Homo sapiens: one gene and its partner. The protein of the gene in region 1 interacts with the protein of each later gene in a pairwise test. Each region holds a gene or a part of one and is shown in the gene's direction. Other genes may lie near its edges. The genes, in order: PRC1 and PKIA.

Evidence for each region.
Region 2: the proteins of PRC1 (region 1) and PKIA interact in binary tests that used the Homo sapiens proteins (3 or more experiments, as listed by UniProt).

The regions. Positions count from the first base shown.
Region 1 is NC_000015.10:90,965,523-90,970,808, reverse strand, and holds the end of PRC1 (protein regulator of cytokinesis 1), read left to right. Parts: intron 1-294; coding exon 295-405; intron 406-1,185; coding exon 1,186-1,362; intron 1,363-1,688; coding exon 1,689-1,730; intron 1,731-3,606; coding exon 3,607-3,678; 3' UTR 3,679-4,155; coding exon of another isoform or gene 4,156-4,230; 3' UTR 4,231-4,769; downstream 4,770-5,286. UniProt on the Homo sapiens protein: Key regulator of cytokinesis that cross-links antiparrallel microtubules at an average distance of 35 nM. Essential for controlling the spatiotemporal formation of the midzone and successful cytokinesis.
Region 2 is NC_000008.11:78,511,718-78,519,384, forward strand, and holds the start of PKIA (cAMP-dependent protein kinase inhibitor alpha), read left to right. Parts: upstream 1-4,622; 5' UTR 4,623-4,751; intron 4,752-7,667. UniProt on the Homo sapiens protein: Extremely potent competitive inhibitor of cAMP-dependent protein kinase activity, this protein interacts with the catalytic subunit of the enzyme after the cAMP-induced dissociation of its regulatory chains.

The DNA.
Region 1 (5,286 bases):
TTCGTTTGGGTAGAAACATCTAAGAGTGGAATGGCTGGGTCATATGCTAGATGTCTTGTGCCACAGTGGTTGTACCATTGTACACTTCCATTTGCTGGATAGCAATAGGCTTTGAAAATTTTTCACAAGTTACTTCAAATCTATGCAGTATTAGACACAGCAGGCCCTTCACCATGTAAACCCGTCTTCCCTAGACTGCCTCCTCCCATAGTCATTTCTCTGTAGGGTAGACAGGTTGCTAGAAATGCTGAGGATGTTACTGCACATCAGTTACCCACGTGCTCTTCTCCCTAGCTGAACACTACCACCATGTCCAATGCTACGGCCAATAGTAGCATTCGGCCTATCTTTGGAGGGACAGTCTACCACTCCCCCGTGTCTCGACTTCCTCCTTCTGGCAGCAAGGTTAGTATGCCCTGTGTCTAAGCACATCCTCACATGCGTCCCTAGCCTGTTCACCCAGAGGCCCCACCTACTTGTTCTAGATTCTAAGATCCCTGGATTTGGTTCTTATTGAGATGCTGAGAGTTGACAGATATAAGCTAGCTCACCATTAAATAATGGTCCAAAACTAACGTGCAAAAAAAGAGAACAGTCACTCTGAGCCCCACTGGTACCATGGGAAGCACTGGGATGTGTCTGGGAAACTGAAGATCAGGCAGGGTCGCTGTAGACTCAATTCCAAGCCCAGTCCTCAGCTGGTATGGAGATAGGTCCCCTACATGTGGGTTCTAGCCCAGTGAAACCAGATCACTAGACATGCCAGGTACTCAGTAGAGATGTGGAAAGTATGTGGCAAAACACATTCAGTCTTTCAAATATTTTATTAGACTATGCTCAAGATAGGTGTTCTGTAAATCAAGAATTCATATTTAAAAAAAATTTTTTTCTAGAGACAGTGTTTTGCTATGTTGCCCAGGCTGGTCTCGAACATGTCGCCTCAAGCAATCCTCCTGCCTTGGCCTCCCAAAGTGTTGGGATTATAGGCATGAGCCACACCCAGCCCCATATATATATATATATATATATATATATATATATATATGTTTTTTTTTTAACTAAAAAGTATAGGATTATAGACATGAATATAAAGATAGTCTCAGCCTTTGACCAGTGCAGGTATTGTGTGTGCGTGTGCACGTTCATTAGAAGGATGATACATGGATCTCTTTCCTTTCTCTGCAGCCAGTCGCTGCTTCCACCTGTTCAGGGAAGAAAACACCCCGTACTGGCAGGCATGGAGCCAACAAGGAGAACCTGGAGCTCAACGGCAGCATCCTGAGTGGTGGGTACCCTGGCTCGGCCCCCCTCCAGCGCAACTTCAGCATTAATTCTGTTGCCAGCACCTATTCTGAGTTTGCGGTAATTCACCTTTTCTAATATCTACCAGTCTCTGGGGAGCACACAGTTGGGGCAGAGTGGGTATCTTCCCAGGGGCACCCAGGCTATTAGCTAGGGCAGCTACCTTGGAGGCTGAGAATCCCTTTCCTGCTTTGACCATGGCAGGGTGGGTGTGATTTAAGGGGGGGTTGTGTAGGAAGGAAGTTGGCAGCAGCAACTAGACATTTAACCTGGATCCTTCTGCTTAATACATACCATTCCCTGGCTGCAGGAGGCAACCCCTCTATCACTGTCCTGGTGCTCTCTTGGTGGAGTTCTTGGTAATTGTCTTAATTCTTTGTTCTTAGAAGGATCCGTCCCTCTCTGACAGTTCCACTGTTGGGCTTCAGGTCTGTATGGCAATCCCTGCATGTCCCTTTTCCAAACTGATCTGTCATCTGCTGGCTTCATTCATCTGGGCACAGGGCTACACTAACTAATAATCTCAGCAGTGTTACAAAGGAAGCAGGAATTCCTATCATGGACTCAAAAAAACACATCTGATTTACATTCACAACAGATTAATTAATAAAATTTGTTCAGACTTGAATTGGATTCTCAGCCCCTAAAGTCAGGCACAGTTTTAAATCACGTTTAACAGAAAACCTTGACCCTCCCCAATTGTGACATCAAAGGCCTGCAATAGCTGGAAAGAATAGAGGCCCCCAATCACATGGGGAAGGGAGCCCCAGCTGTGTGCTGCCTACAATGAGGCTCTTGGCCTGTGTGCTGATTATTTCCTGGAGTATATGCCTTCCTAACCCCTCAGGGCTTAACCGCCAGCTCTATTCTCAGCTAGCTAATGCTGATTTCCTCACCTTTGCCTCTTTCCATACATTGAGCTACTGAAGCATAGATGAAGCACTGGAAGCAAGTTTTTCCAGAATGCTCTTCACTTCCTAGTATCCTACTCTATATTTGCTAACACCTAACTACACTGCCTTTTACTTAATCTGTGATTTCTTCTCTCAATATTTTACTAGCAAGAGGAGAGGATGTTCCTCACCCTTGAGGGGATATTGAGTTAAACCCCTAGCCTGCCTCCCCTCTTAATTGCTGCAGGGATAGAGAATGGAACAGTTGGCCAAGGCTGCAGCTAGTTTTGATCACTGAAACTGGCTTCCTACTCCAGCATGTTTTTCAAATTACGTGGCTGGTGGTGCTTCTACCTTTAAAAGTGGGTGTGTGTCACTCTGGCTGATTGCTGGACAGAGGTCCAGCTTTCTCTTTTTCGCTTGTTCAACCAAGGCCCATTTTATCTGAGGCTTAAATGTACCTGCCTATCTGTGTGGCTAGTCCTAGGTAGGTTCGTCTGGTTTGGGTTGCTATGGCTGATAGACTCCACCAGGCAGCACCAAAGCCGGTAAACTAACCTCTGCTAATATCTGTCTTTCTCAATAGCCATTCATGCTTTATCTTTTGCTGCTCTACCATGTGCTCCAGCATGAGATCAAATCACCAGCAGGTTACAAGGCCTCAGCCCCAGGGATTGGTAGATATATGTTCTGGCCCATTGTTTTATAAAGGGCTCAAGAGACCAAAGCTTGTTGCCTACTTACCTTGACAACTCTAAAGTAGCTCTGTGAAGTAGAGTCATGCCTCGCTTAATGACAGGGATATGTTCTGAGAATGTGGGGCAATTTCATTGTGCACATATCAGAGTGTACTTAACAGTCCTAGACAGAACAGCCTACACACCTAAACTATATGGTATGGCGTTTTCCTCCTAGGCTACAAACCTGGGCAGCATGTTACAGAAAGAATACTGTAGGCAATTGTGGGTTTTTTTGATTCAGGCTATTCCTGGGATACTGTAGGCAATTGTAACGCAATGGTAAGTATTTGTGTATCTAAACATAGAAAAGGTACAGTAAAAATATGGTATAATCTTATGGGACCACCATAGTGTATGTGGCCTGTCGTTAACTGAAACATCATTATGCAGTGCATGACTGTATGAAGGATTTCTCTTCTGTGAGGTGTAACAGAATGGACTGGCTGAGGAAAAAGGGGTCACGGGCATGCGTGCACATGCACTCTGTCTGTGACTAATAGAATGGTGCTCAGAGTTCCTCACCTTTTACTCCTAACGCAGCCTATTGCAGGCTAGGGATCTCAGAGAAACTACCTTCAAGGGACCTTTTGCTGACACTTAACCAAACTTAGAAGGGTGGGCCATGTGTAAGAGAGGCAGTATGGCCACTGATGTTATTTATTTTTCAACAGCGAGAACTTTCAAAGGCTTCCAAATCTGATGCTACTTCTGGAATCCTCAATTCAACCAACATCCAGTCCTGAGAAGCCCTGATCAGTCAACCAGCTGTGGCTTCCTGTGCCTAGACTGGACCTAATTATATGGGGGTGACTTTAGTTTTTCTTCAGCTTAGGCGTGCTTGAAACCTTGGCCAGGTTCCATGACCATGGGCCTAACTTAAAGATGTGAATGAGTGTTACAGTTGAAAGCCCATCATAGGTTTAGTGGTCCTAGGAGACTTGGTTTTGACTTATATACATGAAAAGTTTATGGCAAGAAGTGCAAATTTTAGCATATGGGGCCTGACTTCTCTACCACATAATTCTACTTGCTGAAGCATGATCAAAGCTTGTTTTATTTCACCACTGTAGGAAAATGATTGACTATGCCCATCCCTGGGGGTAATTTTGGCATGTATACCTGTAACTAGTAATTAACATCTTTTTTGTTTAGGCATGTTCAATTAATGCTGTAGCTATCATAGCTTTGCTCTTACCTGAAGCCTTGTCCCCACCACACAGGACAGCCTTCCTCCTGAAGAGAATGTCTTTGTGTGTCCGAAGTTGAGATGGCCTGCCCTACTGCCAAAGAGGTGACAGGAAGGCTGGGAGCAGCTTTGTTAAATTGTGTTCAGTTCTGTTACACAGTGCATTGCCCTTTGTTGGGGGTATGCATGTATGAACACACATGCTTGTCGGAACGCTTTCTCGGCGTTTGTCCCTTGGCTCTCATCTCCCCCATTCCTGTGCCTACTTTGCCTGAGTTCTTCTACCCCCGCAGTTGCCAGCCACATTGGGAGTCTGTTTGTTCCAATGGGTTGAGCTGTCTTTGTCGTGGAGATCTGGAACTTTGCACATGTCACTACTGGGGAGGTGTTCCTGCTCTAGCTTCCACGATGAGGCGCCCTCTTTACCTATCCTCTCAATCACTACTCTTCTTGAAGCACTATTATTTATTCTTCCGCTGTCTGCCTGCAGCAGTACTACTGTCAACATAGTGTAAATGGTTCTCAAAAGCTTACCAGTGTGGACTTGGTGTTAGCCACGCTGTTTACTCATACAGTACGTGTCCTGTTTTTAAAATATACAATTATTCTTAAAAATAAATTAAAATCTGTATACTTACATTTCAAAAAGATATAGTGTGGTGTTTCCTTTTTTTCCCCAGTCACTTTTTAGTTGGTTGGTCTGTGTGTGAAAAACAAACACAAAAAACTAAAAGGACCTCCTGGAAATTTTTAGTCAGGAGTGTGATTTTTTTTTTTGAGTCTCACTCTGTCGCCCAGGCTGGAGTACAGTGGCACTATCTTGGTTCAGTGCAACTTCCACCTCCCAGGTTCAAGCGATTCTCCTGCCTCAGCCTCCCGATTTGCTGGGATTACAGGCACGCACCATCACACCTGGCTAATTTTTGTATTTTTAGTAGAGACAGGCTTTCACCATGTTGGCCAGGCTGGTCTTGAACTCCTGACCTCAGATGATCTGCCTGCCTCCCAAAGTGCTGGGATGACAGGCATGAGCCACAGCACCCGGCCGAGTGTGATTTTTAAAATATTCTCTGGTACATTTCTAAATTAAGAATATCTCTTACTCTAATTTTTTGGTGAGAAATATAAAACCTAACCCCTGATGTGTAGAGAGCAAAGGGAGTCC
Region 2 (7,667 bases), on another chromosome or scaffold:
AAGCATTGCAGACCTCAAAGTCAAGATCCAAAGTTTAGGGTTTTTTAAAAAAAAATTTGTGCAATAACAAGTCATAGGTTAAAAAAAATTACATATTGCTGTATGTAAAGTTCCAAGAAGACAGATTCAAACCCTATATGTTGACATAAGACATTTCCCAATATCTTTCCCCTTTTCTTTCTGGTTTCCCTATGCCTCTTACCGTGCTGGAGTATCAGAAGCAGTTCAATCCTGCCATTTAATGTCTTTGACTGTTGTCTTTAACACCATCAACACACTGATTCCTTTCCATGAATAAAAAGTACCTGATAAGAATACTTTGATAGATGAATGTATCTATATTATCACAAGAAACTATCTTCAGTGAGTCTGGCTTCGCAGATGGAAACTACACTGGGGGGTCAAGAAAACATGTTCTGGGACTGTCCCAAGTCGCCACAGTTGCATCCCTACTGCCTCAGGCAACTTGAAGGAAAAGATCAAACATCTTTCACTCTTGAGACAATTGTTGTCTTCATCTCAGAAACAAGACAAAGTCAGGCTGTGAGTGGTGGGGATCCAAGCCCAAGTCTGTTCAACTACAAAATCTCTAACCTTCACAGTCATCTCAACCTTCTGGTTCTCTTCACCTTCTCATCCTCCTGCCTCTTTACTTTATAAGGACTTTTATCTTCAGCATGAGATACCTAGCAAATCCTTCAACTAAATGATAAATTATGAAGGCTGAACATGTTCTCTCATTCAAGGTATTTAGAACTTGCAAAGGAGAAAGGGGACAGAAGCCTGCCCAAGTATGCAAGGATAACACTGACAGAGTATCAGCTCCCTGAAGCTCTGGAGTGGCAATTTCATGCCATCTCATTATAGCCTCACAGTAACAGTCTACAGTTTGTATTCTAAGTTTTGCCATGGCTCCCTTTGACAATCTGAAGCAACCTACATAACTCTTCTTAAAATGATGCTTTTCAATGCATAAAATATAATACGTAGAATTGGAAAGGAAACTACGAAGTTTAAAATACTGTTATCAAAATATTTAAAAACAAAATTCATGATATACAAAGGTATGGGCATTTAAACTCATTAAACACAGTATAGGAGAGTTATATATATTTACTTAAAAATTGTGATATTGTGGGAAAGGGTTAACAATTTTTATACTGCTTTACATGTACACTGAAATTGAACAATTATAACAGTGAATGATGGGAGCCATGATTCTCACTATTGGAATAGGAATTTACAGACAAGCAAAGGGAGGAGGCTAGAATGATCTATGTGTTAAAGGATTAAAGTTGGAAACATAAGTATGTGCTCATATTTAGCTTAATACAGACACAGAATGGTCACATATAGAAATACTTATGTATATATGCATGGGTAAGTATACACATATATTTCTTCACTGTCTTAGTTGAAAGGCCTAAACAAAATGACCTGCCAATAATGACTGTGTCTGGGACCCAGATCTTGATTTGTATTACCATTCTCCCATAAAAGGAACAAGGGCTCCATGAAGAAATGGCTGATTCTTGGAATGAAGAAGGAAGTATACAAGTTGAGACTGGAGGAACTTATAATACCATAAAGTAAGGGATTGTTAACAGCCCTGCTGCTCCTGCCATACACACACACACGCACACTCACACATCAAAGGGGGTATGTCAAAGGAGCACAGGAACCTACTGAAAGAGCTTCCAATGGGCAAAACTGGAACAAATTGAACAACAAAATAAAGTAGTAATTGATTATTACCAAAGGCATAAAATATAATACATCTCCATAAGTCTATAATATTGATATCAATAAGTAATTGAATACTTGGTAGAGAATAGACAGCTCTCCTGTACAGAATTCCATATACTTTATGTACACACTCTGCCCTCAGGGAGGTAGAGCCAAAGTCCCACTCCTTAGGTTTGGGTTTCATGTAGTTACTTCCTACAAGTACAGTATGGAAGGGATGGGCAATAACGTTACAGTAGAGAAACCTGACAAACACTGCCTCAGCCAGACAATCAAGGTCAACACATCACCAGTCATAAATCACATCGGTACTATAGCACCTTGATATGATGTGAGGAAAAGGGACTTTACCTCTTTCTTTCTCCTGCCAATAGTTCGCAACTCCAGTCTTATCATAAGAAAAGCATCAGACAAATTGCAACAGTGAGGCCTTCCAGCAAATACTTGACCACTACTCCTCAAAACTGTCAAGGTCATCAAAAACAAGAAAAACTATCACAGCTAAGAGGAGCTTAAGGGGACATGACAACTAAATTTAGTGTGGTATCCTGGATGGATGCCTGGAACAGATTTAAGGATATTAGGTAAAAACCAGGGAAACTTAAATGTAGTTAGACTTTATTTATAGTTAGTAATAATGTATCAGTATACATTCATTGATTGTAACCCAATGATATGGTTCAGATTTGTGTCCCTACCCAAATCTCATGTCAAATTGTAATCCCCAATTTTGGAGGAGGGGCCTAGTGGGAGGTGACTTGATCATGGGGGAGGACTTCCCCCTTGGCTTTCTGGTGGTAGTGAGTTCTCATGACATCTGGTTGTTTAAAAGTGTGTAGCACCTCCCCCTTCTCTTTCTCCTGCTCCAGCCATGTAGGCCCTGCCTGCTTCCCCTTTGCCTTCCACCATGATTATAGGTTTCCTGAGACCTCCCCAATCATGCTTCCTGTACAGCCTACAGAACCACCAGCCCTTCTTTATAAATTACCCAATCTCAGGTAGTTCTTTATAGCAATGCCAGAATTACACCAAGGTACCTTACTATTGTATGATGTCAATAGGAGACACTGGGAATGGGATATATGGGAACACCCTGTATTATTTCTTCAATTTTTCTGGACACCAAAGCTGAAAAATATAGTCTATTAAATAAAAAAAGTAGTGATGATTTGATTATAACATCAGTGTAGTGATAGAGATATCTATAAAAACAGCAATAAGGAATTAGCTGTTGTTTCTATTGGAAACAAAGTCCCAGGTACTCCTAACATTCTTGTGGTTTGTTGCCTACATTATGTTTAAAGGACATGCTAAATGCTAAATTTCAGTTAGAAGTTAGTGAAACTAAAAATGAGATTTTTCCCATTATACTTAATCTGTATAAAAGGAGTATATGAATAGAATTCCATTTATACAGATTAAGAATCTCCTGCTCTATGGTAATATTAACGGGCTAATGTTATGAAAGTGAGTCTCAGAGCGATGAATTAAGCTGTTCTAGCTTTCAAAGAGCATATATTCTATGACCAAGAATTCTAACTAAGTTTTGTTGGAAAGCTGTTGGCTACATTATCACCTAACTTTGGGACTGATAGATGGATGGAAACATCTCATTTAGCAAAGGTGCTTCCCTGGCCTTGTGCAATTGCACTGTTTAGGTTGCTGGACAAATCCATAGTGTAAAGCTGGCCTGTATCAAGTGACGGTCAATTCAAACAGCAAGGCAAGTTAAAAGAGGGAACTCCATTCCACAGAACCCTAGTGTCAAGGAACCTCCCGACTGGAAAATGACTCAACAGCTAGGCGGAAACCCTGGCTCAGCTACAAAGAGAGCAAATTTAGTCCCATTTTTCCTTAAACATTCAACCCTCAAACCTGAAGAGATTTGGGAAAGAAGCAAAACGGGAGGGTGGGGGAGAGAGAACAGTCTTGTTAACAGCTAGTGTTAATTTAAAAAGAGAAGGAAAGGGCTTATATGAATACATGCTTATTTCATTCCCAAAGCAAATTTTCATAAATCCTTAGGGAAAGAGAGATAGTCATTTGCTAATGTAGACTCTGCTTTTTGATTCCCAAATGTTACAGCTGTCACCACAACAGTTTGCCCAATTATGTGGCAGGGAGGGGAGGGGGTCCAGAGCAAAGGAAGTAGGAGGAAGAGATGTTAGAGGGAACATCTGTGCACAAGTGCACCATAAACACAACAAAATCATGGGGCCACCCCACTGTTTCTTTGAGCGCTTTCTCTGGTTGGCCCCACTTCTCCAGTCTTTTAGGAGATTCCCGTTCTATTACGTAGGTGAGAGGGCGAAAGGTTCTAGCTTTCAAAATTGTGAGTGGTTTGGCTGTGTGCATACGTGTGTGTGCGCGCGTGTGTGCGTGTGTGTGTGTGTTTGCGTGTGTGTCTGTTGGCGGGGGCGGGGGTGATGGAGAGAGCTATGAAGGGCTTAGAAAGCTTCATTACCAATTTAAAATGTTTTTGTAGTGCTTGAATGTTTATCTTAAAAGACAATTCCTGCTCTCAAATTCAGCCAAATGAACAATGCTGATAAGGAAGATGAAGAGGGTGGGAAACCCACAGGGGCAAATGGAACAGTCCATGCAGCCGGGGTGACGGGGGAGCGCTCGGAGGAAGGACGCTATGCAGAGAAAGCCCCCCTGGCTCTTCTCTCTCAATCCATAATCCAGCGATGCTGCAGCTGTAAAAGCATTAATAGAAAATCAATCCACAACCTCGCGGGGCAGCGATCGTCGAGCGCCGTTTCCAGGCTGCCTTCCCTGGGGTCGGGAGCGGCCCCGCTCCCCCCGTGGCTGGCGCGGAATGTGGTGATCCGTCCCGGGGCGGGGATGACTTCATGCAGCCGGAGCTCCGCGGCGGGAGCGGAGGCTGCTGCTGGCAGGTGGGGCGCGGGCCGGCGCGAGCTGACCGAGCACTCGGCGGGCGCGGCGGGACTGCGGCCCGTGGCGGCGTGCGCGGGGACCTGCGCTGACTAGGTCCGGGGAAGGTAAGCAGCCCGGCACCGGTGCGCCCTGGCCGCACTGCGTGGAGCTTTCCGCTTGGTTAATAATGGGGTTTGCAGCACGGAGGGAAGAAGGGGAGAACCCCGCTGCATTCTGCAATGAGAAAAGGAGCAACAACTAGGATGGAAATGTTGGGCGGCCAAGTGCAGAGGTTGGAGGAGCAGTGTTACTGGGCAAACAAAGAAGGCGTTCTTGCCTCTATACTCTTTTGAACGTGATCTACCATTTCAGTGCCAGATTCGCGTAGACAGTGAAGAGGACTCAAAATTTAAAATAATTTGAGTTACTCTTTTGCTTTCTGTGCCTTTTACCTTCGCTTGAGTATTTTGAGGATTTGGAGCAGTAGGTCCCTGGCAGCAGCCTGAGGTAATCAGAAATCGTCCCTCTTCCTGTAGTCCTTGGTCCTCTCCCTTTCCAGTTATCAGAATGGGTCTGTGCCCCTCTCAATGGCAAAACACCTGCTTCAAGACTGAACCTTTAGAAAGAGCCTCTATCTGGAGGGGAAACTTCTCTTATCTCCTGGAGTTCAGCTTGGGTTGAGCAGCACTTGACATCGCTTCTTCCTTCAATTGCCATTTTCTCTGTCAATCATTTCATTGATCTTTTTCGGAGATGCTGTGCCCATTCACAGACCAACTCTCGTCAGCTCTTATCCACCACCTGGGTTCCATGACTGATTTTGTCAAGGTCCCAAAAAGGGCATTGCCTCACACAGATTTCTTATTCGGTATTCTCCCTGTATACTGTTACCTGTGTCCTTCCCCCAAATGCATGGAATGAAATATCCTGCTTGTGGCCCTGTACCAACATGTTATCCCATTAACTCCCTTCGCTGTAGTCACTGTGGCTACTTGAAAGCTAGAGAGGACAGATAGAATCTACTGGAGTGTGAGGGATGTTCCCTATGCATAGGCATAGGTAGAAGTAAAAATGTGAATGCCAGTCCATCCAGTTTTTCTTGAAGCAATTTTAGTCCAGTTGGATTTTGAGACAGCTAGCTGTTAAGATTTGGGACAAATCCTTTCCAAAAGGCAGAGGAGTCCGTTTGCCTCTAGGATTCCTCAAGAACCTCAAAAGAGTTTCCAGTGAGGTTTTCCTCGTAGGCAGTCAGAAAGCCAATGGAGCTGCCCAATCTAAGCCTCTGGTTGAGTATCCTCTAGTTTGTCTTGCCATTTGCAGGTTCCTATCCCTCGTCCTAGGATTTTCCCCACAGACCCCTTGCTACTGAGCCCAAGTGCCTATCCTTGTTGCCACCTAGAGATGTACATTTGAATAATATGCTGTGAAATGGTTAAGATGGCTGTTATGGGGATTGCAAACGTGCCACTTCACCAACAGAGAACAGTTGCAATAAGCCAGATTGTGGGGTATCTGTGTGCCAATGTTCTATTTAAAGGAAGATCTGTTATCTTTAAACTTAAAATTACAGAGACTGTCTGACTCAACAGCCATGCAATTTTATTTTAGTAAATTAAATTAGAAGATCAATGAAAAAGAGGGGCAGAGTTGGTAGCTTAAAATTTTACCTCTTTCTTTCCTCTTCAAATATTATTTTTAAGCAAAGACACTAGTATGGAAAATCGTGTTAATCATATTATATATCATTATTGCCTTTCTATTACAAATTTCGTTTTTACAAAATGCACTTTAGAAAGATTTGAATTTGTTTCTTTGTCTCCATCTTCAGTATATGAGGCATAGGGTGAGGGTGTAGGGGGTGGGCAAAGCCCACTACTGAGTGATCCACTCCAGGAACTGCCCCTTGGGGTCTTAATAACCTTATGTTCCTTTTTTGTTGTTGTTATTATGTGTTAAACAGGGTTTTGGTTTGAAATATTAACTTCTTGAGATTCTAGAATTTTTACTCAGTCACATTAACTATGAGGTAACAAAGAACAAGATCAACAACAAACCCTGTATTCTACCACCTTTTTTCTACTATTAAAATACTTAACCATATACATCATTATTCTGAATAATACTAATATAGAATAATAATGAATTTTAATATAGTTATTCTAAATAACCTAAGGTATATGAAATACAGATTAGTACAATTGATCTTAGAAATACAATGCAGTTTCTGTAATGTTGACAGTCACCTTTCTGTTGAAGAGCAAGTGCGTGAGAATATCCTAATGATGGTTAGAAATTCGAAGTGTCTATCATTTAGTTTCTGAAGAAACTAAACTCTTTGGCAAGAAATAGGTTCAGGATTAGGAGACTGGTGCTGCCTAAGGTGGAATAATACTTGCTAGTGATTTTGCAGGTGAGTTGAACCCACTAAGTTATGGACTGGAGTTGGAGAAATCTTGTTGAGAAGAAAGAAAACAAGTTAGAAAATTTAATTTTCATTTTAGTACAACTGAGGAAGATAATCAAACTGAAGGGATTCCTGAATTTGGACTTTGTTGTGTTTAAACAAGTTTGAGGAAAGTTTCTAAATTTAGAAGGCTAAGCAGAAATATATGTATGATTTTATGTCTGAAACTGATTTATGACTTTATATCCTTTCCTTAAAATGTTTCCTAGGGAGAGGAAAAACTAATTGGCTGGTGTTCAGAATTGAAAGAGGAATGAAAAATGGAAGGACGTGCATGATTAGATGCTAAATGATTAGATACTAAATGAACTGCAGGCACTTTTGTGTTTGACAAGATAGAACTGAAGTCAGTCTACTGCTCTCCAATTGTGTAAAAAAAAAAAAAAAAGTTTTGTCTGCTAGACAGTGTTACCAGATATTTAGAGAGTAAAAATTTAGGAGTTAAAGTTGCCCTCTTCTAACAAAATATCTTTTTCTGGTGCTGCATTACTGCCATTAACTACAATTGAAATAGCCTTAAGATTTGAGGCTGAGGCAGGAGGATTGCTTGAGCCCAGGAGTCTGAGGCTGCAGTGAG